Linked DNA regions of Homo sapiens. The protein of the gene in region 3 purifies or fractionates together with the protein of the main gene of each other region. This does not show direct contact. Each region holds a gene or a part of one and is shown on either strand. Other genes may lie near its edges. The genes, in order: HEATR5B, SYNRG, AP1S2, CLINT1, AP1AR, AP1M2 and AFTPH.

Region 1 (4,331 bases), on a different chromosome or scaffold from region 3:
ATAATATATATTTAACAAAAATTACCTGATTGACTTTATACTAACCGGTGTTTATAAGAAACATGAGGAAACACTACACCAAAAAGGGCCACAGAAGCATCAATGACTGAGACTCCGAGAGGGAGGGGACCAGGTACTGCTTCTCCAGCAGGTATGCGTAAATAAATAGAGGAAGGATCATGCTCCAGAGCCCCACTTCCAGAGGCACTGTTTGGCTGGAGCTGCAAAAGAGTGAAATAAAAATTATTCAAAATCTACTTTAGGAAATCTACTTATTAAACATTGGGAATGAGGATTACAGCAGAGGAGAAAGGAGAAAAGGCAACAAAAAAAGAATGATTGGATCCGAACATTTGAAAACAGACCAAAATGTAATTTGGTCATTAAAAAATCATCAGTAACACCTTATACAAATTTTAAGAAAAGCTTTATTCATTCGAAAACATATTTACACCACCCACCTTATTGCGTGAACAATATACACAAGATCTTAATCCCACAATTATTTTAAATGGGGCTTTAATCACTCTTTAAAAAGTACATAAGAAATAATGTATTCAGTGGGCAAAAGTTCTAAATCTTCAACCTACTAACTCATTCCTCTCCAACCTGTCACAAAACAAAACAAACTAAAACAAAACAAAATACCAATAACCAAAAAGCCAGTTAAAACTGATCTTTATCACAGCCACCACAAGGTATCTAAATACACAGAATATTAAATAAAGACAATTTGCCAAATTCTCACTCTTCCTGTTTAACTTTTTTCACTATCTACCACCAGGATGCCATCTTTAAGTGTCTAAGAACACTAAATGGGGATTAAACCTTTCTATACACTATTTTCTTTTTAAGTGACAATGTGTAATAGGACCATTGTTTCAGATTAAGTTAGTATTTCATTTTCCTCTATGTTTATTACCTGGTCTTCAATTGATTTATGATCAGTTTCCTGAAGCCAAGAACCAAGAAGAACACTATCATCATAATGGCAGAGGGATCTGAGGAGGGAAGTAGTTGTGTTGGCTGAGTTGTCAGTCAAAGTGAATTCCGCTACCAGTTCTCTAAGAAGTGCATTAAAAGATCCTAAAAAACAGAACTTCAGATCAGATTAAAAAGAATAATTTTTGTGAAAATTATAATCATTGCCCACAAAGAGCTGCAACATGTTCAACAGGAATAAAATAATTAAGTCTCTGTTCTCTTCTTTAAAAAAAATCTATATTTAAATGCTGGTTTTAATATACAATAATGGTACTTCCTTTCATATATTGTATTGTGTCTTTTAGCCCAAATTATTTAAAATAACCAAAAAACTCAAATAGAGGAAAGAGAGGCGGGTGCCATAGCATGCTTGTAGTCCCAGCTACTCAGCAGGCTGAGGCAGGAGGATTGCTTGAGCCCAAGAGATTGAGACAAACCTCTGCAACACAGCAAGACCCTGTCTGAAAGACACACACAAACAAAGATACTTTATTTTAAATATATTAAATGTGATATGATTATTATTATTTATTGCCCAATAATGTACAATGAACCACAGCACACCAAAATTCTTTGGCATGATTATACTGGAAAGAAATCAATAGTTTATTTTACTATTAATATTTTACATAATATTTGATTTCTCCCTCCAGATCCTCGAATTATTTGCTATATTACAGTATATAGGAAGCATTTCAGTGTATTAATCAAAAGTGCACACTTTGAAGATAAACCAGCTAGATTTGAATCCAAGCTCTGCCACTTAACTACCTCTAAGTCTTGGGTAAGTTAAGTTTCTTTAAGTCTCTCAATCTGAGATTCTTCATCTATAAAATAGGGCTAAAGGCCTCATAAGTTGCAACACAGTCAAAAAGCTAATACAAAAGGCTGAAAACGAGACCCAGAACACAGTAAGGAGTCAACAAGTATCAGCTACTCTACATGAAGAAAAATAAAATGGTGGCCTTCCTTTGCACAGTAAGTCAGTGGGAGAGCCTTTGTCAAGACTCTATAATACGGTGAAGAATTGTAAAGAAAAATTTTTATCAGATACCACAAATTTTTAATTTACCTTCATAAGTTTTTGGAGGTAACAAAGCCAAGATATCATAAAGTCTTAAACGGACCATTGCAGCACTAGCTTTCAGATGAGCTCCATGGGCTTTCATTACAGATGGAATGCTAAAATATCAAAAACATAGTTGGTAATGGCTTACCAGAATAAGTATTACTTATAAATTTTTTTAGCAATGTATCAATGTACTGCCAAACTACACTGATAAGTATACACTTTCATTTTAGCTTATGTTGTGATCTTTGCTGTAACAAAAACACTTTAAGATACAACTGTATTTCAATCCACACCATTGCTGTAATTTTTAAAGTTATATTACAAAAATAAAGTTTTATGTTTCCTAGATGATTCTAGAAGAAAGCACAAAATATGGCTGAGAAGTATATTATTAATATATAAAATAGGATGTGAACTTGTCTCAATCGCTTACTTACTGTGACATCATAGTCATGGCACATTCAATAGGGGTCATCAATTTTCGAATCACATCTTCAGTTAGTAGCTCAGGACAATGTGCAACGAAGCTCCTCATGGCTAGATAAAATGTTTAAAAGGACAGATTTGGAGTAGCTTTTGTGAACATGAATTAATTTATAAAATTGTATAAATATAAAGGCAGTTGTAATACTTAATTATTATAACGTATAAGGTTCTGAAACCATGTCGAACCAAAAGAAAAACTTGCAACAACTACAAAGAAAAATCGTGGAAAAGGCTAGAAAAAAGGTGGATAGAAAAATGGAGGAAGAGAAGGTACTGGTTAGAGAGATTCTTCGGGTGGAAATTCAGAGGACTATGATCCCATAGGAATTCAGATGACTACAAAGAAAGAAATTTTAAGGCATTGTTTATACACATATACATTTATGTGTATAAACAATGCCTTAAAATTTACATGAAATTTTTACATATATTAAATATATTTTTGCAACTTTTACAGATATATATGTATATGTGTGTGTGTGTGTGTGTGTGTGTGTGTGTGTGTGTGTGTATATATATATATATATATTTTTTTTTTTTTTTTTTTGAGAGAGTCTCACTCTGTCAACCAGGCTGGAGTGCAGTGGCGGAATCTCGGCTCACTGCAACCTCCACGTCCTAGGTTCAAGCAATTCTCCTGACTCAATCTCCTGAGTAGCTGGGACTACAGGCAAGCACCAGCACGCCTGGCTAATTTTTGTATCTTTAGTAGAGACAAGGTTTCACCATATTGGTCAGGCTGGTCTAGAACTCCTGAGAGTGATCCACCCGCCTTGGCTTCCCAAAGTGCTGGGATTACAGGCATGAGCCACAGCACCCGGCCACTACATATATTTTTGCATTTTGAATTTTTACATATATTTGTGTAAATATATATGTATATAAACAAAAATGGTCCAGTGAGAAAAAAATATTTTTATTGGCCCCTTAGCAATAGAGCCTAGACTAAAACACCTCCTAGATGTGTGAGAGTAAAGGTGCCCCCTTGCCTGGCTGCCCTTGTGGTGAAACATGTATCTCTCTCCCAGTTTGGAAAAAGAAGTAGTTTTCACTCTGAGATAAACCAAAAAAGAACTGGTACATCCAATGTCATTCTAGTTATCAAACGAAACAAAACCTGAGCGTTTCCTGTAAGCTGTTAACTCCCAGACAAAAACAACTGTATCCGTTATTTTTGTAATGTTGATATCTGAAAAATATATGAAGGTTTGGAGATTTGATAAGGATGTGAAAAAACAGCTGTTTCTCCATTATGAAAAGACTAACTGCAAATGCCAATAACTTTGGTAATCCTGAGTTTCTTTTTCTTTAAATAGCTGTTGGGTATTTTTTCTTTTTTTTATACATGGTGACTCAGTGCTTCTTTGACAGGTAAGATAGCAACAAGTGGGAATAAGAGGCCTGGGTTCTAGTTCCTGTCTAACCACCAGGTCTAAACACTTTTTCAGAGTCTGGGTTTCATTTTTATTACAAAATTAGCAAACTGAAGTGGATCATTTATAAAGTTTCTATTTAAATCTAAAAGCCTATGAATTTATCATTACCTAGTAAAATAAAAAACTATAAAATAGTGATTTTTCTTTTACTTTACAAATATTTTAGTTATGTCATAATATTGTGAAGCACAATCCTTTCAGTTCTTACCACATAGAGCTCCAGCACGACCTTCCAAAGTTACCTGCCAGGTAAAAGAATCGCCTCGGGCCTTCTCAGCTTCCAATTCCTTTAAGGAACGTGGGAAAACATTTCGCCACAATAACAACATCTTGGGCAGATGGTAACGAACGAC
Region 2 (4,331 bases), on a different chromosome or scaffold from region 3:
ATTGTTGTTGTTGTTGTTATTATTATTATTTTGGAGAGATGAGGTCTCACTATGTTGCCCAGGCTGGTCTCAAACTCATGGGCTCAAGCAATCCTCCCACTTTGGCCCCCCAAAGTGCTGGGATTATAGGTGTGAGCCACCAGACCCAGCCATTCACTAGATTCTCTAAAGAGTATCTAGAAACCTCCTTTTCAGATCCTTGACTCCCGGATTAAGAGCCTTTCTCACTCAGAAGTCTTCCTTGATTTGTCCCTTTTTCTTTCCAGGCTCAGAGAAAGAAGTCCCACTTCCTTTTCAAAGCAGATCCCTTTTGCTACTTTGTTTTGTTTTGTTTTGTTTTGAGACAGAGTCTCCTTCTGTCATTCTGTCTGCTCAGGCTGGAGTGCAGTGGGGCAATCTCAGCTCACTGCAACCTCCGCCTCCTGGGTTCAAGCAATGCTCATGTCTCAGCCTACTGGATAGCTGGGATTACAGGCACATGCCACCACGCCTGGCTAATTTTTGTATTTTTAGTAAAGATGGGGTTTTGTCATGTTGACCAGGCTGGTCTTGAACTCCTGGCCTCAAGTGATCCGCCTGCCTTGGCCTCCCAAAGTGCTGGGATTACAGGCATGCACCACCTCATCTGGCCCCCTTTTGCTCCTTCGCGTGTTAATCCCATTTCCTTAAAAACCTTATAAATCACTAGGTATGTATTTTGTCTCTTAAATTTTTTCTCCCTAGGGTCTCTTCCCCTTTCTTTGTTGAAACTAACTCACTTAACAATCACCATTTTTGAAAGCAGTGATTTATTTTTTAATCTTCATTCTCACCGCTATTCTACAGCATTAGACACTGGTAACTACTTCCTTGTTGAAATGTGGTCCTTCTTCAGTTATAACTCTCAGTTATAAGCACTCCCTTGGTTTTCAATGACCATTTCCTACTCAGTTTTCACTGCAAGAATTCTCCAAGTTTGTCCTTAGTTGTTTTGTTACTGGATATATGCCCTTGGCTATTTCATCTACAACCAGAGCTTAATTTTTTTTTTTTTTTGAAACGGAGTTTCACTCTTGTTGCCCAGGCTGAAGTGCAATGGCGCGATCTTGGCTCACTGCAACCTCCGCCTCCTGGGTTCAAGTGATTCTCCTGCCTCACAGCCTCCTGAGTAGCTGGAATTGCAGGCATGCACCACCATGCCCAGCTAATTTTGTATTTTTAGTAGAGATGGGGTTTCTCCATGTTGGTCAGGCTGGTCTGGAACTCCCAACCTCAGGTGATCCACCTACCTTGGCCTCCCAAAGTGCTGGGATTACAGACGTGAGCCACTGCGCCTGGCCAGAGCTTAACTTTTTAACCTTTATTTATTTATTTATTTGAGACGGAATCTCACTCTGTCGCCCAGGCTTAACCTTTATTCAAAAGAGCCTAGGCCAAGTGCCGTAGCTCATGTCTGTAACCCCAGCACTTTGGGAGGCCAAGGCAGGCAGATCATGAGGCCAGGAGTTCAAGACCAGCCTGGCCATCATGGTGAAACCCTGTCTCTACTGAAAATACAATAATTAGCCAGGTTTGGTAGTGCTCGCCTGTAGTCCCAGCTACATAGGAGGCTGAGGCAGTAGAATCACTTGAGCCTGGCAGGCGGAGGTTGCAGTGAGCTGAGATCATGCCATCACACTCCAACCTGGACGACAAGAGCAAACTCCGTCTCAAAAAAATAAAATAAAAATAAAGTTGTCAGCTTAAAAAAAACCTTAGAAGAGAGCTTTCTTACGCTCTAAAATGAGGACTTATTGTTTAATGGGTACAGAGTTTCTGTTTGGGATGATGGAAAGGTTCTGGAAATGGATAGTGGTAATGGTTGACAATATTGTGAATGTCCTTAATTATGCCATGGAATTATACACTTAAAAATGGTTAAAAATGATAGAATTTTATGTTATGTATATGTTACCACAATAACAATAAAACCTCTGACAACTTCATATAATATTCAAAATAAAATGAAACATTTTAAAGGCCCTTGACCAGGTGCGGTGGCTCACACCTGTAATCCCAGCACTTTGGGAGGCCGAGGCGGGTGGATCACCTGAGGTCAGGAGTTTGAGACCAGCCTGGCCAACATGGTGAAACCCTGCCTCTACTAAAAATACAAAAAATTAGCCAGTCGTGGTGGCGGGTGCCTGTAATCCCAGCTACTCAGGAGGCTGAGGCAGGAGAATTGCTTGAACACAGGAGGTGGAGGCTGCAGTGAGCCAAGATCGCGCCATTGCACTCAAGCCTGGGCAACAAGAGCGAAACTCCATCTCACAAAAATAAATAAATAAATAAAAATAAAAATAAAGGCCCTGTACAATCTGCTTGCTTTTAAATCATATAGTTAACATTTAACCTACATTCATTTCTCCAAACATCCCTGCATCTCTGCCTCAGAGCTTTTGCTCAAAATATATAGTGTGCTTCTATTTTCCTTCAAGATTCAGCTCCAGAGCTACTTCCATAAAACTTCTCAAGATATAGCCCATTAAAATTCATCTTTTTCTTCTCATCTCTATTAATAATTTGGACCTCGCTTATAGCAGTTAGCACATTTACCCTGTGGTATAGTTATTTGCCTGCATATGTGTATTTTTGATTATAAGATTCCATCATTTCATGTAGTTGACACTCAATAGATGTTGACTGAATTGAATCTAAACTCTCTCATTTTATAGATGGGGAAACTGGAATCCAGAGAGGACACGAAGTGACAGAGCCAGGACTAATTTCAGGGTCTTCTGTCTTTTGTTTCAACAAGTTTCCGTCTGCAGTAGCATGCTGACATGCATCCTATGGATGCTCAGTGTACTGATGTTGGGCAATTCAGTATTGTGGTGCAGAACAAACACCAGGTCCCATCTACAAGTCTTTTATCCATATAAAAAAGTACACGTGTTATTTGAAATCTTTGTACATACGAAGATTATAATGTATTTTTATTCTGTTTTCAGCTTCATGTTTCCTGTTGCAGGTGGGATAAGACCCCCTCAAGGTATGTGAGAGCTTAAGTTTTGAACTTTTATTTTTCACTCTTGTGTTTCTGAATCTGGGAATTAAATAAGTAAATAGAAAATAAGTTCTGTTGCTGCTGAATAGAGTAAAATTTTCTGCACTCTTAAACCTGTATGTCCTATATGACAGCTACTCTTAAATTTTCTCAAAAATTATATAATTTTGGGAGTAATAAGGATCACTCCTCGTTTCTCCCAAACTTACATAGACATTATGTTCATAGATTGTTTAACCTCAGAGGTGAAAGACTTTTAGGACAAGAATGTTAAAGAACAGGTGATAAAAATGAAACGAGCTGTAATTCACTTAATGATGTCTTTCTCCTTCTATCTAGTCTTCTGCTAGATTGTTAGTGCCATGTCTGTCTAATGCTCATCTAGCATTATTTGTAGCACCCAGCATGTTGATTCAGCACAATAGGTTATCTGTAGATGTTTGTTGAATGAATAAACAAACATCTTTAGTTGTTTTACACTGCTATTTTTTATCTATATGATAGTATCTTATTATAATCATGTTTTATAAATATATAATTTTGAAATTAAAAGAGATCACATAGTCTGATTCAGCTTAAGTATTTAAGTCTCAGGATTTTGTTTGGTTTTTTATTTTTATTTTTGAGATGGAGTCTCTTGCTCTGTCGTCCAGGCTGGAGTATAAGTGGCACAGTCATAGCTTACTGTAGCCTCAGCCACCTAGGCTCAAGCATTCCTCCCACCTCAGCTTCCCAGGTAGCTGGGACCACAGGTGCATACCACCACGCCTGGCTAATTTTTAAATATTCTGTAGAGACAGGGTCTCCCTATGTTGCCCAGGCTGGTATCAAATTCCTCGGCTTAAGCGATTCTCCTGCCTTGGCCTCCCAAAGCACTGGGATTACAGGCATGAGCCACCACATCCGGCCAAGTCTCAGTTCTATTCCTAGAAATTTCTCTAAGTATACCTTTTCTCTCTTGGTCTCAGACTAGGACCCACCAATATCAATTCTAGCTTTATCTTCAAGGAAATAGTAGTGAAGGAATATAATTTTGACCCATGCTGCCATGCAACTGGGACACAACAGTGAAGAAGGAATAGATCTGCCTTCATCTGGCTTCTTTCCGCTCATTTCTTTCACTCTGACAGTCTTCCCTCTCCCGTCACACCAAGCTGCTTCTGAAAACTGGCTCTTCTTAAAAAGCCAGCGTTGATTGGTTGTCATAGATTTGCTAAAGAAACAGAGACTCCTAGGTCAGCAGTAGAGATAAAAGATAAAGAGCAGCTCAGTAGCAGGTGGTCAGTGGCTCATCCTGACTTTGTCT
Region 3 (3,585 bases):
CAGCTTTATCAATTTTTTGTCGCTTTCTTTCCATTGACATATTTGGGATCTAGAATTTTGGAGTATGTGACATTTTTCAATTTGAGATTTGGGAATAAGGACTTAAAACATACGTAAAATACTGAAACGTTAACGAAATTTAAGTAGGAAGAAAGTTTCCTCAAAATTGGAATTTCTGCATGATATCTGTTAAGGATGAGAGTTCTTTCATGTGTAGTCAATAAAAGAAATCATGCATGTGGCCCAGGATAATTTCACTTTAAAAAGTTGGATTTGTTCCAGACTCTAAATGCCTGCTTCACCCTGAAAATGATTGACCTAGAACTATCTACTGATTTCAGTAACGCCGAGTAATTATCATTAAATTCAGTATTTTTTAATACTTTTCTAAATACAGTCAAGATATATGCAATTAAATGTGGTCTGCAAAGCTGAAATCTTAATAAATCATGGAGGCTAAGAAAGAAAACCACCATCTTGAGCTCAGGACAACTGAGATATTGATGACTTTCCCCTCAAATGTTAATAGGCAGGGTAGAAGGGCAGGAAGTTTTTAAACCACTGACTGGTTCATTATCCTGATAAATGTCCATCTTGAACTTAAATTTATTAGTTTTTTTTAATATATATTGCCTGATTACTATTTATGTTTCAAAAATTCCAACTATACATTGCTAGCAGAAACCCACAGGCCTGTTTTCAGTGAATAGCTAGCTGCATGTTGGAGGCTTTTTAAACCTATAAACGTCTTTTTTTCCAGTAGACTAGCAACTTAATTTGATGGTAGTTCCTGCCTCCTTCTTAAATAGCCCAGTTTTAGAATGTAACATTTCCTATCTGTAGTAATAGGAGGTCCCTTAACTATCATGATTACCATAGATTTGATTTGTTGCATAGGTTAGGTAGTACAGTCTGCAAGTATTAGTCCCTTTCTGTTGCATGTGCTAGCACCTTCAGTTCACAAGGGGGTAAGAGGAATCCAGTTGATTTGAAATACCTTTTGAGTAACAGTCTAAGTTGTTCATTCAGAAAGAGTAGAAAAGTCAACTGCATCAAGGTTTTAAAAGCAGCATTTATTGATTGAAAATAAATGTGTAGATAGGCTCTCAGTATGGAATCCATGTTATTTTTTAATGAAGTACATGAAGACTCCTTAGATCTTCCACCATGTATCTTGTGTGTGCTTATAACAACCACCATATTCAAATGGAGGGGAATTTTCAACATTTTACTGAAAAAAAAATGAGAAATTCTTCCTTCAGCAGCTCTGCATAGTTTGACAAACTTTTGGAAAGAGATAAAAACACACTCCAGTGTTTGTACGTTGAACGTTTATTACAACTAATTGGCGATGTGATAAGACAGTGCTCACGTGGCCTGAATGTTGGTCACAATCACAACAAAGCTTAATCCAGCCCAGCATATATAAGTGAAAATATAAACCATGAAGACATGTTTAGATATGTATAAGTACTTAGAAAAGTGACGCTGAACAATTACATAGCTTTAAAAAATATAGAGCCATCTAATGCCATTTTACCTCATTCAACTCTTTTTTGTAAGAAATGTGTCTTTTTAAATTTTTATAAGACTTCTGTTAACTAGGCAGTGCCATGGAAAGAAAGGAAGCTGCTGTAAAGTGTGCAGCACTTCTAAGTGGAGGGAAGCAAAATAAATTTAGCTTTAACAAGTACCCCAGAGGGAACATTCGTGCTTTAAACAATGACTTTACACATAATACTGTGAAGAGAGCAACACGTTTTTTGTAAGATACTGTTATGAAGAATTCCTGGCAAATTACCATTCTCACTTTATTTTGGGGCATCAAAAACAACTAAGTATTTGATTATGACCACAAAAAATTCATCTCAGGAGTCAAATGTGCCTTGGCCTTAAAAATTATGTGCTTACTATTGTGAAACAATCCTGTTTCTCATCCCAGATTCAGAATGCCTAAGAAATAATTTTTAGTGTAAGAAGTATCACTCCAATTTAGTCATTAAAAATAATCTGTAGTCCTTTAAAAAAAAAAAAAAAAGGTATGTAATTTCCAATACAAGTCTTTGGAGTAAATTTGCTTTTTAAAGTTTCAACAAAGTTTCCATTCATTTGATATGTGACATGTCAATTCCCTTTTTTTTTTTTTTTACATATGCTGAAATGCTGCACTAGTCTTTGGTTTCATAAAACCAGGTTTCACATTATAATTTAAGAGTTTCCTTTGTCAAATACAGTAATTAATAAATGTATACTGCCTGATTTTACATGTATATGATGTGCCATTTTCATATGTGCACATAATCAGATTAAGAGAAACTGACCTTTAAACTTTAAAATATCCAGAAAAGGTATCTCTTTCTGCACCATTCTAATTCATATTTAAGTCCCTTATCACTTAATTAACTAAAGTTCCCTTTTAAAAAAAAATTGTGTAGGCATGAATGAAGCGGCTTAGCAAAACAGTAATACTGACAAGACATCATCTTACACCATGAGCTAACATGGACATGAAGGGAGTGACCATCTACAGTGTGTGAAATGCCACAAGAAGTCATCAACAAGGGAGGAGAGTTATGTCAGTCCAATTTCTTCAAGAACACTACGTGGGGTTTCAGCTTCCTGTGGAGGGAAAATGTGAGACTCTGGTAAGCAGATCCAGGGAGTCTTGAGAATGTGAAACATTGACATGGAAGAACATGCTTGTTTTAGAGAATCAAGAAAGCAATTTCGTGTCACAGTAGCATTCTAGTTGACAGCCATTGGTTATTTAGGGTTTTGTGCCCTCAAAATTGGAGACCACAAAAGGACGTTTTCAGCATTCATTAAGTACCTGCTAATTACCTACCAATGTGCTAGATGCCGTTGCTGTCATGCAAAAAGCAGTCAAGCCCAGTGCAAACCTGCTGGCAATTTATGAAATCACTGCTACTCAATTATATATATGAAAGATAAGTTATCTTAGTGGTAAAATTCAAAACCTCTTCCCTCCGAGTTCCCACAGTTCTTCGCCTACTGTTGTGTTCCATGCTTTTTGTCACATGCATTTATAGAAATGTCTTCCTCTTGGAGTTTTTAGTTAACTGTGTCCACAGCGGCAAGTCTTCAGAAACAGCTATCTTCCCAGACCTCCCCAGTGCAACCAATGGCATCACTAGAGGCCACATATGCAAAGAATGCCATGGGCCAAAGGCATTTTTATTCTATGTAGCAACCAGCACTGGTTTTTAAGTGTCAAAGGAGGTCAAAACAAAGTAAGCATATCCAGGAAAAAATTATTTAATAATTTTCCAAAGTGGCTGATTTTGCAAATCACAAAATAAAGGACCAAGGAGGCCAACTTTCAGGTATTACTAGCAACGAATTTTGTAATTAAAAGGCAACACTATATTTTAATGATGGAAAATAATATAAATTTTTGGCATCCAGTAATAAACTTACTTTCGCATCCTAATCATGGTACAGCACAAAGCAAGGAGAAGAGAAATTATATTAAACCATAAATCTTTAGAATATTAATTGCATGTAAAGCACTTCATGGTGTAATCTTAAGTAAATTACTTAAACTCTATGGTCTGTTTCCTTATT
Region 4 (4,331 bases), on a different chromosome or scaffold from region 3:
GGTATAAAATGATGAAGGAACTTGCAAATGAAGAAGCAGTGACGTGATTAAGGGCTATTCAGATAGATGGATCAATAGAATGAGGGCTTCTATGAGAGAAAGGTTAGGGGTTTAACTATCTGGTTCATATTCTGGCATTACGTTTTTAATTAGCTGTATGTATGATTTGAGGCAGAATCACATGAATCTCCAGACTTTGCCTTCCTTATCTGTAAAATGAGGGGACCTGGCTAGAGTAAGACTTTTTCCACCTTTGATGGCTATTGGAGAAATGCATTTCCATCAAGGAAAAATAGTTGGAACTAGTTTTTACAATAGCAGACAAATTTTGGAGCCATTATCCTCTGTAGACAATTTAGGCTGAAAAGGGAAATTTTCTTAAAAAGTGGTAATCAATAAATGTTATACTTAAATATTTTATGCAATAAATAAGACCATGACTCAGGAAGACTAGGACTTTTAGTGTATATTGATACCCAGTGAGGTTTTACTTCAGAAAAAGAAATGTACTCTGAAAAATGTGTTTCCTGGAGCCACTCTTAGATTCAGTATGGTAGCGGCTCTTAAGTGTAATGATGTATTTCTTTTTTTTTTTTGAGATGGGGTTTCGCTCTTGTTCCCGGGGCTGAAGTGCAGTGGCGAGATCTCAGCTCACTGCAGCTTACACTTCTGGGGTTCAAGCGAGTCTCCTGCCTCAGCCTCCCTAGTAGCTGGAATTACAGGTGCCTGCCACCACACCCAGCTAATCTGTGTATTTTTAGTAGACACGGGGTTTCGCCATGTTGGCCAGGCTGGTCTTGAACTCCTGACCTCAGGTGATCCACCCATCTCAGCTACTCAAAGTGATAATGATGTATTTCAAACACTGGCTTTTGAGACCTTGAAGACTTTTTCTGGAAGTGGGGGTATATTTTCCACAATCGCTGCACCTCCTGGTGGCAGTAGAGGGATTTGTTTTGCAGAACATTGTGGAACTGAGGGAAGCAGATAAAGCCATAGGCCTGCCAGAGCTTGGAATGCCAGTATCTTCCCACTCGTCAAGTTGCATAAAAGGCGATGTGGCAGGAAAGGATAAGTGGCACCATTCCCACCAACTAGGAGCACTAGCTTAATCATTGTCATCCTATGACCTATCTTTACTTGTGGCTGTAATAAAATTGGACATGTTTATATTTTGTCATCCTATACATGGTAAAATTGAAAGTTGCTGCAGTTCTATTTTCTCTCTAGATTTGAGGAATGTAATGAAGGTGACATGGTAGTGGTAGATCAAAACTGCTACTTATTTGTTCAAGCTCAGCGAATCCTTCTCTTTCCTTGCAAGGAGTAATATTAGTGGTAAATCTCTTTCATCAGTGACCCGCCCCCCCCCCCGCCTTTTTTTTTTTTCGGAGACAGTTCACTTTATCCCCCAGGCTGAAGTGCAATGGCGTGATTTCAGCCCACTGCAATCTCTACCTCCCGGGTTCAAATGATTCTCCTGCCTCAGCCTCCCGAGTAGCTGGGATTACAGGCGTCTACCTCCATGCCTGGCTAATTTTTGTATTTTTCATACAGCTGAGGTTTTGCTGTGTTGGCCAGGCTGGTCTCAAACTTGTGACCTCAGGTGATCCACCCACCTCGGCCTCCCAAAGTGCTGGGATTACAGGCATGAGCCACCTTGCCCAGCCTCAGTGGCCCTTTTTTTGATAGTGATTCAAACAGCTCTGGCTAAGGTCCTAAGGCAACAGCTATGGGTAGTCCATTTTAAGTTATTCTCCTAAGCATAGCTTGCATTTTCCCTCATAAGTTGATTTTTATTGATGTATATTTGCTTGGTTTTAGTTCCTAAATGTTTAGATAATGTAATAGAGCTGTAGAAACTGCTGTTCTAGTCTCCTGACTCCAGAGGGAGAAACTTTTGCTTTTATAAAGAATAGTATATTCATTTATTTTAACAGGCAATACATTTGTTATTTATTGGATTAGTAGTCTGGTTTCTTTTTATTTTTTATTTTTGAGACAGGGTCACACTCAGTTGTCCAGGCTGGAGCACAGTGATGCAAACATGCACACTGCAGCTGGGACCACAGCTGCGCCTCCATGCGTGGCTAATTTTAAAAAATTTTTTTGTGGAGAAGGGTTCTTGCTATGTTGCCCAGGCTAGTCTTGAACTCCTGGGCTCAGGCAGTCTGCCTGCCTCAGCATCCTGAAGCGCAGGGATTACAGGCGGGAGCCATTGCGCCTGGTCTAGTACTCTATTTTCTGAACTCGAAACATACAATACCTGCCTTCAAGAACCTTGCCACTACAAATATGCTACAACTTGAATGGATTATTTTTCTTTTCTTTTCTTTCAGTCTTCAGATATCATCCCCTTTATTTTCTTTATCTTACCAGTAAATCTCTGTTCAGTTTGCTTCTTGGAATTTGAAAGCAGAGATAGTAAGATAGTTGTCAGCTTTCTAGTCTTCCCATGTCAACTTTTCTTTGAACCGATTATAAGTAATTGTTATTGCTGAAACAATGAATTAATTATTCTCCTCCTTTTCTAGTAACTGGACACAAGTAGATATTAGGAATTTAATTCCAAAGAAAGATGAGTTTGGTTTATCTCTGCTAGCATTTCTTAGGGGTAATTTTCTGTAGTTTAATCTATTTAGTACTACTGTCAGGGTGCTTTTAAAAAGCACTTAACTGCCTCTTATGTTTTCTTGCACACTTTAGTATTAGTTTACAAGCAGTTTTTCTTTTTTTTTTTTTTTTTTTTTTTTTGAGATGGTGTCTCGCTCTCGTTGCCCAGGCTGGAGTGCAATGGTGCGATATTGGCTCACTGCAACCTCTGCCTCCTGGGTTCAAGCAATTCTCTTGCTTCAGCCTCCTGAGTAGCTGGGATTACAGGCACGTGCCACCATGCCCGGCTAATTTTTGTAATTTTAGTAGAGACGAGATTTCGTCATGTTGGCCAGGCTGGTCTTGAACTCTTGACCTCAGGTGATCCACCTGCCTCAGACTCCCAAAGTGCTGGGATTACAGGCGTGAGCCTCCGTGCCCGGCCTACAAAGCAGTTTTTCATCTGTTTACTGATATGTCCATTGAAAGTACTTAGCCTTTTTTATTTTGAGTGCCATTTGCTAGTAATCCAAGGTTTCACAATATGGCTCTACAGTTGAGTCTTTTTCTGGACTTTTTTTTTTTTCTTTCTTTCTTGAGATGGAGTCTTGCTCTGTCTCCCAGGCTGGAGTGCCATGGTGTGATCTCAACTCACTGCGACTGGCCTCTGCCTCCCAGGTTCCAGCGAGTCTCCTGCCTTAGCCACCCAAGTAGCTGGGATTACAGGCATGTGCCACCATGCCCAGCTAATTTTTGTAGAGACGGGGTTTCATCACTTTGGCCAGGCTGGTCTCGAACTCCTGACTTCATGTGATCTGCCTGCCTTAGCCTCCCAAAGGGCTGGGATTACAGGCATGAGCCATTGCCTCTGGCCTTTTGTATGCTTATATTATTTTCCTACTTGTTTCCAATGTTTGTTTTAATGAAGATCACTTCACAGATTCAAAGTACATTTTTAGTACTTTTGAAGGTTCTTATATACAGTTAACTTTTTAGTCTCAGCTACCTTTGGTGACAACATATTTTACTGTTTACTCTTCTGTGTTTTTCAGGTTAACGCTTCATGTGAGCTTTCCTTGTTTAGCTTAATTATGTGTGTTTGTCCATCTATGTATTTTTATAATAATTTGCTAGCCAAATATACTTTGCCACTATACTTAGGTGCCTCCAGATGGTGTTTAATAAATGTGGGAATAGCTAGTGGTTCAGAGGTGAGAACTGGATTGAAATCTTAGGTCTGCTACTAGAAACGGTGATCTTATGTGTTAGAATGGTATCTTTATTTCTCTGTAAAATAGAGATGATATTTTATAGGATTATGAGGATTAAATGTGAAACAGTATAGTACTTGACATACAGTAAACTCTTGAAACATCTATTACTGTTATTACTGTTACACACAAAACAGTATAACACTAGAAAAATCAAAGGAATACAGTGTTTGTGAAAATAGAGATATCATTGTCAGACTAGGTTATTTGTAAGTATGTAGGAACTATATCTTCATCCATGAAATCATTATTTTCAGTGAGTACTCTCTCTTAAGACTCAGTTTAGCCTACATATAGGACAGCTAATTTAAATACCTCTGTTGTTTATGCCTTGTATTATTTTTGCTAAATCATAAATGGCTTCTACTTTAATATTGCAAAGCATATTGCAGAAATACCCTTTCAAAAGACATGTTGAGGAATAAAGTCTTTGGAAAGACATATCGCGAATTCCATCTGCCAATTCTT
Region 5 (5,131 bases), on a different chromosome or scaffold from region 3:
TAGAATGTCTATAGGAAGTGCTGTCAAGTCTATAGCTGCATTTTTTTAATCAAACTTTTTATATTGAGACAATTGTGTCACATGCAGTTTTAAGAAATAATATACAGATGACCGTGTATATCTTTAATCTAGTTTCCCCCAGTGGTGACATGTTACAAAACTATTGCAATATCACAACCAGAATACTGACATTAATATAGACAAGATGCAGGATTTCCATTCCCTGACCCATGGCAATCAATTATTCTGTTGTCCACTTACATAAATTTATCAATTCTGAGATGTTACATAATGGAATTACACAGTATATAAGCATTTGAGATTGGCTTTTTCTTTAACCATAATTTCCTACAGATTCATTTCAGGGTGTGTTCATCAATACTGTGTTCCTATTTGTTACTAAATATTCCATAGGATAGATGTACCAGTTTCTGTAAACATTTATAGTTGAATTTTAATGATTATTTCATTAATACATTTGTCTAATTTCAGGGGTTGGAAGGAGAAAAGAAAATGCTTTCACTAGGAAGTCATTCGGTCATCCCAACATTCACTGAAAGCAAACCATTGGGACAAATGTTATCCTATGCTTCTGATTACAAAACAACTAAAACCCAAATAAAATAAACATTAGTAAGTAGCAGTGCTAAGATTGAAACCAGATACGTATTTAAAGAAGCAAGAAAATGAGTTCAGAGAACATTTTATCATCAATAAAAACTTTCTAAAATGTAACAATTTTTCTAGGTTTAATTAAACAGGCTAAAAACTTGATGTGTCCAGTCCATGAGAGCATCCTCCTATCCACTGGACGAGGTGTCTACTAAACCACATCTTATATCTATTGTGAGGCCAACTGTCTTGAGGCCAAACAAGACGCGAATTATATGGTAGCACTTGAGAGGGCTGCGGACACATTAGAGCAGCTTTCTCTTCCCATCTACAGCAGTTCTGGGCAGCATGCTTGGAATGGCAACGCTGACGTCCCCGAAAAACCCCAGCCCTCTTGCCAATTTCCTCTGAACCCCAACTACCCAACCCAAAATTATGTGAAGATCTGATTTTCAAACAAAACGAGGACAATAATGCACCATTATTACGTTTCCCTAAAACATTAACAGTATGGAAATTAAGACACAAACCAGAGACCGGAAAAAAATCTTGGTGCGTTCAAAGTAACCTCAATCAGTTCCCGAGTCTATTTTCCGCTTATGGTGCAGTATTAACAAAAACTAAGCACACCGTGCAGAGAAACGCCCCTTCGCACTTATGACTTCCGGCCTGGGACTCTGGCTCCTCACACGCCTTTGATACAAAGTTCGAAGGCTGAGCCTTAGCCATGCCACGCCCAGCGTGCTCCGGACGAGGATGCCCGAAACTGCAATGAGAGAGGGAAATTTCCTAGTCAGGTCAAGGTCCAACAAAACAAACGTCCGCACGCAGGAATTGAACCGTCTCGCAGGCAGAGGCGGCTGAACCAGGAGCGAGCGGAAGTGACGCACAGGCCGGTCGCCAGAGAAGGCGGGGCACCGAGGTAGCGCGCCCAATTGGGGCGCGGGAGAGGCCGGGGGTGTGGCAGCGTTGGCGGCGAGCAGGGGCCTGGGCGCGCTGGGGGCGGGGCCAGGGTGCTCGGCTCGCGGGGACTGGCCTCCTTCGGCAGCTGGAGGCGGTCACTCACGCTGGGCTAGGAGCTGAGGCGAGAAGGGCCATGCGGACGGCGAGGGAGTCCAGAGCCTTGAGCCCGGTGCTCCTCCCTCGCGCAGCGGTGGCTCTGCGGCCGCTGGAGTAAACACTGCCTTTGTTCCCTAGCGCCTCGTCTTTCGTCGCCCCGTGCCCTCACGCCGCCGGGCTCTGGCCGGCCCGCCCTCGGTCCTTGAACCCCATTTCGGCTCGTGCCGTGCGGATGCAGCTGCCGGGCCTGGGTTTGGGCATTGAGCGGGAGGAGGAGGAGGAGCGGCGGCGCCTGGGCGGCATGCGATGGGGAACTGCTGCTGGACGCAGTGCTTCGGACTGCTTCGCAAGGAAGCGGGGCGGCTGCAGCGAGTAGGCGGCGGCGGAGGGTAAGCCCGCTGGGGGAGGGGCCCGGCCCCCGTGGCTCCTCCTCTTCGGCCCCCGGCGGGGAATCCCTTTCACCGTCCCCCGGCGGCTGGAGGTGGCGGTCGAGAGCCCTGCTACACTCACTGCTTAGCAGACGTCAGACTGGTGGTCGTCTTGGAGGCCCAGTCTGGGGTCCGGTCTTGGGGCCTCCTCGGAAAGAGGTAGAAGAGGGGGCGGGGTGTCCCTCCTGCCAGGGCGCCCTGTCACGCGGGGAAGGAGTCACGGGAGACATCATCTCCAGGAAACAAGGGGTAGCTTCGCGCTAATGGGCTGTAGGACCGGCTCCACGGCAACCTGGACACACCCTGCGCTGAGCTTAGGTTTAACGCCAAAGCTAGTATCCCTGTATCTGACCCTCTCTTTAGCCCTGGCAGAGCAGGTGGGATCTGGCTCCGGAGTTAATGCCTCAGATTGATTTTAAGTAGAAGTCATTTGGATGCTGGAGTAAAATAAGGTTCCAGATACTGATGAACTCTGGTAGCTACAAAGACTTGCTGAATTGCAGAGTTCCCAATGGGCATTCAGATTCTTGGTGCTCATAACTACAGGGACAATGTGTAATTTTTTCGTATTAAGTTTTTGAAATTTCGAGAGGAATTCCTTGCCCTGATTGCTACTCAAACGTCCTGTAACATTAGGTAAATTGCAGTCCTTCTGAACTTCACTTCTCTTGAGTAAACCTGGGATATTGCTTAGGTTTTGTATATGCACCATCCACAGAATAGTAATTTCATAATTCCGTTTTTGTGTTTTTTTATTTCATATATATTGAAAAAATTAGAGCAAATTCCTTTGGGGTTGGCTTTGTTGTTATTAAATGTCCCTCCGGAATTCAAACCTAGAATTGAAAATCTGAACCAAGCCAGTTTGTGTAAGGACTAAGACTGTTTTGCACTTTCTGAAACAGATTGCTAATTTTTCATAATCTGTTCCATTTAACTAACATTATTGGGTAATAAGATGTTCAACATAAATAAATTGCAGTAAATGATCATAATTTGAATCTTTGGTAATGGAGATCTTATAAAATATAGGATTCTCATTCATTAATTAGGCATTGTGTCACCTCTCTGATACAAAATAGCTAAGGTTTTACACTAAGTATCCCTAGAATGGAAGGGCAAGGATTTGCAGTTTGTGCCTAGTGTAATATTTCGATTTCCCTAATTTATGAGTTATTACTCTTGAGTGGGACATGACAGTTGTTTTATCTTGTCATCCAGGATCATCTGGTTTAAGTATTTATAATTTTTGTGTGTGAATGAAACTTACAAGGTCAAGCTGCTTAAGTAGGCTTGCCCAATAACTAGATGCCACACAATCTTTGGCTTTTACTATTATTTGTAGTTGTGTTACAGGGCGTTAAATTCTAACTCCAAGAAAGTTGGTTGGTGAGGGAGCAGTACTTACATTCTAAATGGATAAGCAAAAAACTTTATATTTGACTTTGGACTACATGATGTGTCTGTGGACTTTAGTTTTGTTTTTTTCATGGGGTCTCCGTAGAGTACGGCATTAAAATTGTAGGTTCTACTCCCTCAGCTCGTGAGCTTGGCAGCACAGGGAGGTGGCAGGAGGAAATCCATGAATCAGCGTGAGTGTTAATTGTCTGTAGATATGCCATAAAAACATAAGCAGGTGGAGTATTTCTTTCTTTTTTTTTGAGACGGAGTCTCGCTCTGTCGCCCAGGCTGGAGTGCAGTGGCGCGCGATCTCGGCTCACTGCAACCTTCGCCTCCCGGGTTCACGCCATTCTCCTGCCTCAGCCTCCTGAGTAGCTGGGACTGCAGGCGCCCGCCACCATGCCCGGCTAATTTTTTTGTATTTTTAGTAGAGACCGGGTTTCACCCTGTTAGCCAGAATGGTCTTGATCTCCTGACCTCATGATTCGCCAGCCTTGGCCTCCCAAAGTGCTGGGATTACAGGCATGAGCCACCGCGCCCGGCCAGCAGGTTGAGTATTTCTTATCTGAAATACTTGCTTTGGAGTTCAGATTTTTATTCAGATTTTGGAATATATGCATTATATACTGGTGTAGTATCTGAAAATCTGAAATCCAGAATTCTCCAATGAACATTTTCTTTGAGTAACATGTTGGCACTCAAAAAGTTTCAGATTTTGGAACATTTCAGATTTTGGGTTTTGGGGTTAGGTATACTCAACTTGTGGTTGGATTTTTACTGTTTGTGGGCAAAGCTCTTTGAACAAGTCCTGTGGAGGCAGTGAGAGTTTATAGGTTGTGGACACTGTCATCTAAAATTATATAATGGTGATATTGATCCTATTACTTTAAGTCTATAAACAGGATTTGACGGTTCCCTTACTTGAATTTTCTGATTAACTTATTGTTTAACATCAATTTTAATACTGTTTTAGCAGCTTCCAGTAAGCATGTAGAGACAGATGGATATAGTTACTTGTGCAATAAGGTTAAACTCTTATTTTAGTTTTTTTTTTTTTTTATCAGCTGTTTTGATTTTCTTTCAAGTATAGGTCTGGATAGTTAGTAGTTCTTCTAAAGGTGAAAAAGTTGAGGAGTAATCACAAAAACTTGATTTGATCCTATATGTCTTTGTAGTGACCACAAAAGAAGAGGGTGTCCTCAACTTTTTTAGCTTGATTTAAGCTAGACTTCACAGGGAAGCCTTATGATCTAAGGCCTGGTTTCTGAGTCTTGCAGATTGACATACCCCTGAGAAATCTGAAAATCAGATCACTCGTTTTTTACTATTTTAATCTCAAAACCAGAATTACCACTTTTTCCAGTTTATAAAATACTAGGGAATTCTAGTATTGTATATTCTAGGATATCTGTTTCACCAGTCAAAATATCAATATCAGTGTTGACGTATGTTGGAAACCCTACTACTAATGAAGTCATTTGGTGATTAAAGCAGAGAGAATTAAATATCTTTAAGGAATAAAACTTAGGCATCCTAATGAGTCATACTTCTTCACTGGAGTTTTGCCTGCCAACACTTTCTACAGGGCTCCATCTGCTGGTCAGTTCTCCTGTTTCTCTGAGCAGGCCTTT
Region 6 (3,402 bases), on a different chromosome or scaffold from region 3:
TTGGTCTCGAACTCCCGGCCTCAAGAGATCCACCCGCCTTGGCCTCCCAAAGTGCTAGGATTACACACCTGAACCATCACACCTGACCCTTGTTGGTTTTCTGAGCCAGAATGTGGTGAAAGCCTCGAGTCCCTACCCACTGCCTTTCCCTCACCCCATTGTCCCCAGGAGCTGGGCTGCCTTACCGCCACTCTGGGTGATGTAGCGAACCCAGGGCAGGGCCTGGTAACCACTTTTCTCAATGATCTTCATGTATCGGACCTGGAAGGGAATGAAAAGAGGTGGTCCAGGATTGCAGGAGGGAGGAGGCCAGGGCCAGGGAGAAAGAGACGGCTTAGGCCAAGCGGCTATGTGGCACAGGCTGGGATCGATGAGGGGATATCACATGGTCTTAGGGGGATGAGGTGGCACAGGCAACGGAATGGTGAATGGCTTTGGAGGTGGAGAAGGGACAGAAGTGAACAAGCCGGTGGGGAACAAGGTGGCACAGGCCGGGGGAGAGGGAGCACAGGCTGTGGGCAGATAAAGGTAACATTGCTCTGGGAAAGACCAGGCAGCCTTCAGAGGAGTGTTGACACAGGCCAGGGGACTGAGGTGACTCGAGCCAAGGGACAGGAGAGAGGGGAACCCACCGAAGTCAAGGGGAGGATCCTCCCTGCCTGCTTCTCTCACCTGGATCCCAGAGACGGTGAAGTAGGGGATCTCAAACTTGACCCCGATGGGGGGCCGGCCCTCCACCTCTTCCTTTTCCACACTGGGGAGGCCAAAGTGGGCTCGCATCAAGTACTCCTTGCCCCCCTGAGGGAACATGGGGGCATCAGGTACACGAGGGTCCGCCTACCCTCCCGAGACCTTCCTTTCAGCAACCCCTGGAGTCAGATCTGCTCACAGCCCATTTCACAGACAGGAAAATAAAGGCTCCTTAGCCTGGGCAACATATTGAGATACCATGTCTACAAAAAGTTTAAAAATTAGCTGGGTGCGGTGGAACATGCCTGCAGTTTCAGCTACTTGGGAGGCTGAGGCAGGAAGATCCCTTGAGTCTGGGAGTTTGAGGCTGCAGTGAGCCATGATCTCACCACTGCACCCCAACCTGGGTGACAGAGACTCACCAGGGAAGATTCTGACTGCAAAACCCAATCAGGGTTTTTTTCTTTTTTTAACTACCATGTCCTGTTTTACAGGCACTGATGATCCACCTCTCCCAAGATCATGGGGACAAACCAAAACCTCTAGTAGCCAAGGGATGTGGGTCACCTCATCCTGCCCATTTCACAGACAGGCAAACTGAGCCTCCTTAAGTGGAAATGGGTTTCCCAAACCCACCCAGCTCAGCAAAGCAATAGTGAGGAAGGTGAACCCAGGGCTGGTTTCCTCAAGACATTGGCAGGGGGATATTTAAATCCACACACTTCCCGTCATGGAAGTTTACACGTCTGTGAAATAGACTGGCCTGGTTTCAAGCTTGATCACTTGCATACATACGTACCTCTCTGATTTACTTGTATTTCTTTTTTCTTTTTTTTTCTTTTTTTTTCTTTTTTTTTTTTTTTGAGATGGAGTCTTACTCTGTCGCCCAGGCTGGAGTGTAGTGGTGCGGTCTTGGCTCACTGCAAGCTCCGCCTCCCAGGTTCACGCCATTCTCCTGCCTCAGCCTCCCGGTAGCTGGGACTACAGGCGCCCGCCACCACGCCCAGCTAATTTTTTTTTTTTTTGTATTTTTAGTAGAGACGGGGTTTCACAGTGTTAGCCAGGATGGTCTCGATCTCCTGACCTCGTAATCTGCCCGCCTCAGCCTCCCAAAGTGCTGGGAATTACAGGCGTGAGCCACTGCGCCTGGCCTTGTATTTCTTTTTTCTAAGTTTTTTTTTTTTTCTTGAGACAGAGTTTCACTCTGTCACCCAGGCTGGAGTGCGGTGGCGTGATCTCAACTCACTGCAACCTCCGCCTCCCGGGTTCAAGTGATTCTCCTGCCTCAGCCTCCTGAGTAGCTGGTACTACAGGCGCACACCCCCATGCCCGGCTAATTTTTTTTTTTTTTTTTTTTTTGAAATGGAGTCTCGCTCTGTCACCCAGGCTGGAGTGCAGTGGCGTGATCTCTGCTCACTGCAAGCTCCACCTCCCGAGTTCAGGCCATTCTCCTGCCTCAGCCTCCCAAATAGCTGGGACTACAGGCGCCTGCAACCACGCCCGGCTAATTTTTTGTATTTTTAGTAGAGATGGGGTTTCACCATGTTAGCCAGGATGGTCTCGATCTCCTGACCTCGTGATCCGCCCACCTCGGCCTCCCAAAGTGCTGGGATTACAGGCGTGAGCCACCGTGCCCTGCCCTAATTTTTGTATTTTTAGTAGAGACGGGTTTTCACCATGTTGGCCAGGCTGGTCTTGAACTTCTGACCTCAGGTGATCTGCCCGCTTCAGCCTCCCAAAGTGCTGGGATTACAGGTATGAGCCACCATGTCTGGCCTTTTAATCTTTTTTTTTTTTTTTTGAGACGGAGTCTCGTTCTGTTGCCCAGGCTGGAGTGTGCAGTGGCACAATCTCAGCTCACTGCAACCTCTGCCTCCCGGGTTCAAGCAATTCTCCTGCCTCAGTGTCCCGAGTGGCTGGGATTACAGGCATGCGCCACCACACCCAGCTAATTTTTGTACTTTTACTAGAGACGGATGTTAGCCGTCTCTATGTTAGCCAGGCTGGGATTTCAGGCGTGAGCCACTGCGCCCAGCTCCTCTTAATATTTTTATAGAGGCAGGGTCTCACTGTGTTCCCCAGGCTGGTCTCCAGCTCCTGGGTTCAAGCGATCTGCCCGTGTCAGCCTCTCAAAGTACTGGCATTCCAGTCATGAGCCATCACACCTGACTGGGTCTCTGATTTGTTCTCTGCCTTGTTCTCATGGCTCCTGGGCAGCCCCCACACTACTCCAGTCCCCTCCACCCCCAGATCCCCCGCCAGTCCCTGGTACTTACCGGGAAAGACTTAATACTCCAAATCACGACGTTTCTCTCCGGCACATACTTGGCGCTGCCCACACTGGTCTTGAATCTGGGGGAGTCGGCATCGCTGGGTACAGGCACAGATATCTCCACACCGTTGGCCACTGACTGTTTCTTAAACTGCCCCTTGGCCTGTCAGGGGAGCGAGCATGGGGCACGAAGAATTCGCTTGCTCATCCTTCAAATATTTACCAAGCCCTTTTTTTTTTTTTTTTTTTTTTTTTTTTGAGACGGAGTCTCACTCTGTCGCCCAGGCTGGAGTGCAGTGGCGCGATCTCGGCTGGCTGTAAGCTCCGCCTCCCAGGTTCACGCCATTCTCCTACCTCAGCCTCCTGAGCAGCTGGGACTACAGGCACCCGCCAGCACGCCCAGCTAATTTTTTTTGTATTCTTAGTAGAGACGGGGTTTC
Region 7 (4,331 bases), on a different chromosome or scaffold from region 3:
TGAGGATTTACAGTTTCCAACACTGCAAACCCATTTGTTAGAATCTCCAGACAAGGAGGCTTTTCACCATTGCAGCTCTCTAACTGCTTGTTTTGATGAACAACATTCATATTAGTTCTAAAATCTCCTGGAGAGAAACTTTCAAGTGTTCCAACATTCTGTCTCTGCTCCACTACTTTATTTAAATTTCCTGGTCTTTCCATGCCATCAATGGAAGTAGCTAACATTTCAGATGAAATTATTTCTTTGCTGGTGGTAGAAAGTAAAACATCAGACTGTCCTTTCACAGGAGCAGAAAGTTCAGCAGTGATGTCCTTATCATTACCATTTTTAATGGACTTAAAGCTTGTAAGGCTATCTACATTTTCTGAGAATTCATGAATTGGCATAAAATGGTTTGAAGGTACAAACTCTTCCTTGGGACGAGTATAATCTGGTGTATCGAAATCAACAAACCCTACACCAGAAGGGCTAACTTCTGAAAACCCACCAAATTCCCCAAATTCATCATCATCATCATCCTCTGCTCCATTGTCTAATGGTGGTGGGGATGAAGAGTACATTCGAATGATGTCTGGCTCCATTGTTCAGTTGCTTTCAAATAATTAATTTACACCTGTAAAAAAGAAAAAAAGAATTTTTGGAGGGGACAGATTACATAGAACAAGATCTTTCAAAATTCTCTCAAAGCTACTTTAAAACAATGCAAATTTACAATGCTCTATTTTGTCTCCTTTTTTCCTTGACCATGTCCTGCATGATGTTTTGTATCTTTTAATCTATTTTTCTCTTAGGTGCAATTACTTTACACAGCTATAGTGCACTGGAAAAAAAAAAAGTTCTCTTAGACTACATGTTACCAAGAGCACTGGTAGTACATTAATGAAATGTGGGGATTCCAGATAATTCTGAATATACACTTACAAAAGTACAGCTACAAAATTCTCTCCTGGGGTAAGTGCTTATTCTGTTAAGTTCTCCTTCAATTCATTAAGGATTCAGTGCTTGCCTTATGGATTTGTATGAGTTCTTTATATTAATAAAGGCATCAAAATTTTATCAGTAATAATTGTTACAAATATTTTCTTCACTTGGCTTTTCAATGTTTATTTCTGACCCAAGTTAATTTTTAAATACTTAATAATTTGAAATAGTTTAAGACTCAAAAAAAGTTGGAAATACAAGAGTTCTTGTGTATATTCCACTTAGCTTCTCCCAATGGTAATATAGTAATAAGGTAATAACCATAACACATGGTCAAACCAGGAAACTGACATCAGTACAATACTATTAACTCAGGTACAGACCTTGTTTGGATTTCACCAGTTGTGTGTGTGTGTGTGTGTGTGTGTGTGTGTGTGTGTGTGTGTGTGTGTGTGTGCATGCGTACAGTTCTAAAAATTTTATATGTGTGGATTAGAGTGACCATCACTACAATCAGGATAAGAACTGTTCTATCAACACAAAAAAAACTCCCTCATGTTACCTCTTAATAGTCACACTCTTCCCTAAACCCTAATCCTCGATCTATTCTACATCATTATAATTTGTTACATCAAGAATGTTATATATAAATAGAATCACACAATACATAACCCTTTGAAGCTGGCTTTTTCCCTCAGCCTAATAATGCCCTTGAGAGCTATCCATGTTGCTGCATTTGTCAACAGTTCATTCCTTTTCTTTTTCTTTTTTCAGAGACAGGGTCTCACTATGTTGCCCAGGCTGGTTTCTTGGGCTGAGCAATCCTCCTGCCTCAGCCTCCTGGGTAGCTGAGACTACAGGTGCACATCACCACTCCTGGGTCTGACTCTTTTTCATTGCTAACTAGCATTCCATTGTATAGATGTACCACAGGTTGTCTACCCATTCACTCCATATAGGATATGTGGGTTGTTTCCAGTATTTTCCTATTACAAATAAAACTGCTATGAACATTCATGTACAGATTACTATGTGAACCCATGTTTTCATTTCTCTAAAATATATAAACCCAGGAGTGTGAATGCTGCGTCATGTAGCATGCTCAACTTTATAAGAAACTGCCAAGCTGTTTTCCCAAGTTAATTTTAGGAAGTCAAATCAATTGATTTTTTCACGAAGATGAAGAAAGTTTTATGCAACTTTCTTCATTATTTTGCTGTCATATAAAAGTTAATAAATATTCACTTTTATTTTCTTCTACTTTTAGGGAATAAAAAACATTTAATTTTAACACATCTAGAACTTATTTTGGTGTATGATGTAAAGCAAAAATGTAAGGTGAATTTTTTTTTTCTCAACAGCCAAGCAATGGTCTTAATCCCTTTTGTTGAATAATCCTTCCCATACTAATTAATTTGTAATAGCTTCTTTTTAATACATTTAATTCTTAAATGAAACCTGAGTTATTCTATTCCTCTGTGCTGAGGAGTCAAAAGTTCCACAGGTCAGATTTAACATTACAAGCAAAGGGACCACCTATAATCCCAGCACTTTGGGAGGCTGAGGTGGGCAGATTGCTTGAGGTCAGGAGTTCAAGACCAGCCTGGCCAACACGGTGAAACCCCACCTCTACTAAAAATAAAAAAATTAGCCGGGCGTGGTGGTGCACATCTGTAATATCAGCTACTTAGGAAGCTGAGGCAGGAGAATCACTTGAACCCAGGAGGTGGAGATTGCAATGAGGCGAGATCGTGCCACAGCACTCCAGCCTGAGTGACAGAGTGAGACTCGGTTTCAAAAAAAAAAAAAAAAAAAAAAAAAAAAAAGGGAGGACTAACAGCCAAAGTCCTAGAATAAAACCAGCACATAAATAATAAACAGATACTTCTTACAACTCACAGCTGCCCAGTTAGATACATGAGGAAAATGTTTACTACAAAATTCAACCAGTTTTGCAAGCTAGACTTCTCTCAGAATAAAATTTCCTAAGATCTTCCACAGTTTTAGAGTGAAGGTACCGTAGAAACCACATAGTTTAATTTAGAGGTGAGGAAAATGAAGCCAACTAGTGAGTAACTTTCCCAAAGTTCATTCAGACAGCTGCTTAGTGGAGAATGGCTTCAGAATTTTGAAAAGGATCTTTGAGGTTAACGACTGGTCAGTCACTCAGAGTTACCAGGAAGAAATGAGCAAGTCACAAGAAAAGGAAAAGGCTCCATTGTAATATATCTACTTCAAATTATCTTTCTTACGAAATTAGCACCATAAAGAAGGAAATAACTGCTTTGCTCTGCCATACTCTTCTTTCCTGCTGCTGATTTAAATAGAAAAAAAAAAGTACAAGATACACACAAATCCTATTTTGTTCCCTTGCCTAGTGTCCTGATAACCCCTTCTAATTAGTGTACGAGGTAATCTGACCTCTAACTATGTCCCTCTAATTATGAAGTTCCTATTATTTAAAATCACTTTGCGATTGTTAATGAGAATGTGGGGAAAGGAACCCTTGCACACATGCACATTGCTTGTGAGTGTAAATTGTTACAAGCCTTCCAGAAGGCAATATGGTTGTACTATGCAAACTCCTTTTAAGGAAATCTAAAACAAAATGCTGCAAAGGGATTATTTAGGCAAGTTATACTATATCCCTACAATAGCATATTATACAGCCATTAACTACAGGATTCCTTTTTCTAAAGTTTTTTTTTTTTTTTTTTTTTTTTTTTTCTTTTTTTGAGACGGAGTCTCGCTCTGTCGCCCAGGCCTGACTGCGGACTGCAGTGGCGCAATCTCGGCTCACTGCAAGCTCCGCTTCCCGGGTTCACGCCATTCTCCTGCCTCAGCCTCCCGAGTAGCTGGGACTACAGGCGCCCGCCACCGCGCCCGGCTAATTTTTTGTATTTTTAGTAGAGACGGGGTTTCACCTTGTTAGCCAGGATGGTCTCGATCTCCTGACCTCATGATCCACCCGCCTCGGCCTCCCAAAGTGCTGGGATTACAGGCGTGAGCCACCGCGCCCGGCCCTTTTTCTAAAGTTTAAAAGCAGCCGGGCGCAGTGGCTCACACCTGTAATCCCAGCACTTTGGGGGGCTGAGGAGGGTGAATTACTTGAGCCCAGGAGTTCGATCAAGACCAGCCTTGGGCAACATGATGTAACCCTGTCTTTACAAAAAAAACAAAATATTAGCCAGGCATGGTGGCATGCACCTGTAGTCCAGCTACTTGGGAGGCTAAGGTGGGAGGATTGCTTGGGTCCAGGAAGTCAAGGCTGCAGTGAGCTGTGATCACACCACTGTACTACTCCAGCCTGGGTGACAGAGTGAGACCCTGTCTCAAAAACATTAAATAAAAATAAAATTTAAAAGCATTAATAAAGATAGTGACATGTCAAAAGAATACAAAAGCTA

What was found.
Region 1: the proteins of AP1S2 (region 3) and HEATR5B purify together in Homo sapiens (affinity purification with mass spectrometry; 3 studies listed by BioGRID and IntAct, with this or other methods). This does not show direct contact.
Region 2: the proteins of AP1S2 (region 3) and SYNRG purify together in Homo sapiens (affinity purification with mass spectrometry; 3 studies listed by BioGRID and IntAct, with this or other methods). This does not show direct contact.
Region 4: the proteins of AP1S2 (region 3) and CLINT1 purify together in Homo sapiens (affinity purification with mass spectrometry; 3 studies listed by BioGRID and IntAct, with this or other methods). This does not show direct contact.
Region 5: the proteins of AP1S2 (region 3) and AP1AR purify together in Homo sapiens (affinity purification with mass spectrometry; 3 studies listed by BioGRID and IntAct, with this or other methods). This does not show direct contact.
Region 6: the proteins of AP1S2 (region 3) and AP1M2 purify together in Homo sapiens (affinity purification with mass spectrometry; 3 studies listed by BioGRID and IntAct, with this or other methods). This does not show direct contact.
Region 7: the proteins of AP1S2 (region 3) and AFTPH purify together in Homo sapiens (affinity purification with mass spectrometry; 3 studies listed by BioGRID and IntAct, with this or other methods). This does not show direct contact.

The regions. Positions count from the first base shown.
Region 1 is NC_000002.12:37,056,395-37,060,725, forward strand, and holds part of HEATR5B (HEAT repeat-containing protein 5B), read right to left. Parts: coding exon 4,187-4,331; intron 2,594-4,186; coding exon 2,494-2,593; intron 2,167-2,493; coding exon 2,057-2,166; intron 1,087-2,056; coding exon 923-1,086; intron 222-922; coding exon 46-221; intron 1-45.
Region 2 is NC_000017.11:37,599,042-37,603,372, reverse strand, and holds part of SYNRG (synergin gamma), read left to right. Parts: intron 1-2,969; coding exon 2,970-3,010; intron 3,011-4,331. UniProt on the Homo sapiens protein: Plays a role in endocytosis and/or membrane trafficking at the trans-Golgi network (TGN). May act by linking the adapter protein complex AP-1 to other proteins. Component of clathrin-coated vesicles.
Region 3 is NC_000023.11:15,824,754-15,828,338, forward strand, and holds the end of AP1S2 (AP-1 complex subunit sigma-2), read right to left. Parts: intron 3,448-3,585; coding exon 3,439-3,447; intron 2,620-3,438; coding exon 2,572-2,619; 3' UTR 1,053-2,571; downstream 1-1,052. UniProt on the Homo sapiens protein: Subunit of clathrin-associated adaptor protein complex 1 that plays a role in protein sorting in the late-Golgi/trans-Golgi network (TGN) and/or endosomes.
Region 4 is NC_000005.10:157,852,201-157,856,531, reverse strand, and holds part of CLINT1 (clathrin interactor 1), read left to right. Parts: intron 1-4,331. UniProt on the Homo sapiens protein: Binds to membranes enriched in phosphatidylinositol 4,5-bisphosphate (PtdIns(4,5)P2). May have a role in transport via clathrin-coated vesicles from the trans-Golgi network to endosomes. Stimulates clathrin assembly.
Region 5 is NC_000004.12:112,230,115-112,235,245, forward strand, and holds the start of AP1AR (AP-1 complex-associated regulatory protein), read left to right. Parts: upstream 1-1,672; 5' UTR 1,673-1,977; coding exon 1,978-2,060; intron 2,061-2,161; exon of another isoform or gene 2,162-2,258; intron 2,259-5,131. UniProt on the Homo sapiens protein: Necessary for adaptor protein complex 1 (AP-1)-dependent transport between the trans-Golgi network and endosomes. Regulates the membrane association of AP1G1/gamma1-adaptin, one of the subunits of the AP-1 adaptor complex.
Region 6 is NC_000019.10:10,574,232-10,577,633, forward strand, and holds part of AP1M2 (AP-1 complex subunit mu-2), read right to left. Parts: intron 3,126-3,402; coding exon 2,967-3,125; intron 799-2,966; coding exon 673-798; intron 262-672; coding exon 186-261; intron 1-185. UniProt on the Homo sapiens protein: Subunit of clathrin-associated adaptor protein complex 1 that plays a role in protein sorting in the trans-Golgi network (TGN) and endosomes.
Region 7 is NC_000002.12:64,547,728-64,552,058, reverse strand, and holds part of AFTPH (aftiphilin), read right to left. Parts: intron 955-4,331; exon of another isoform or gene 795-954; intron 617-794; 5' UTR 585-616; coding exon 1-584. UniProt on the Homo sapiens protein: Component of clathrin-coated vesicles.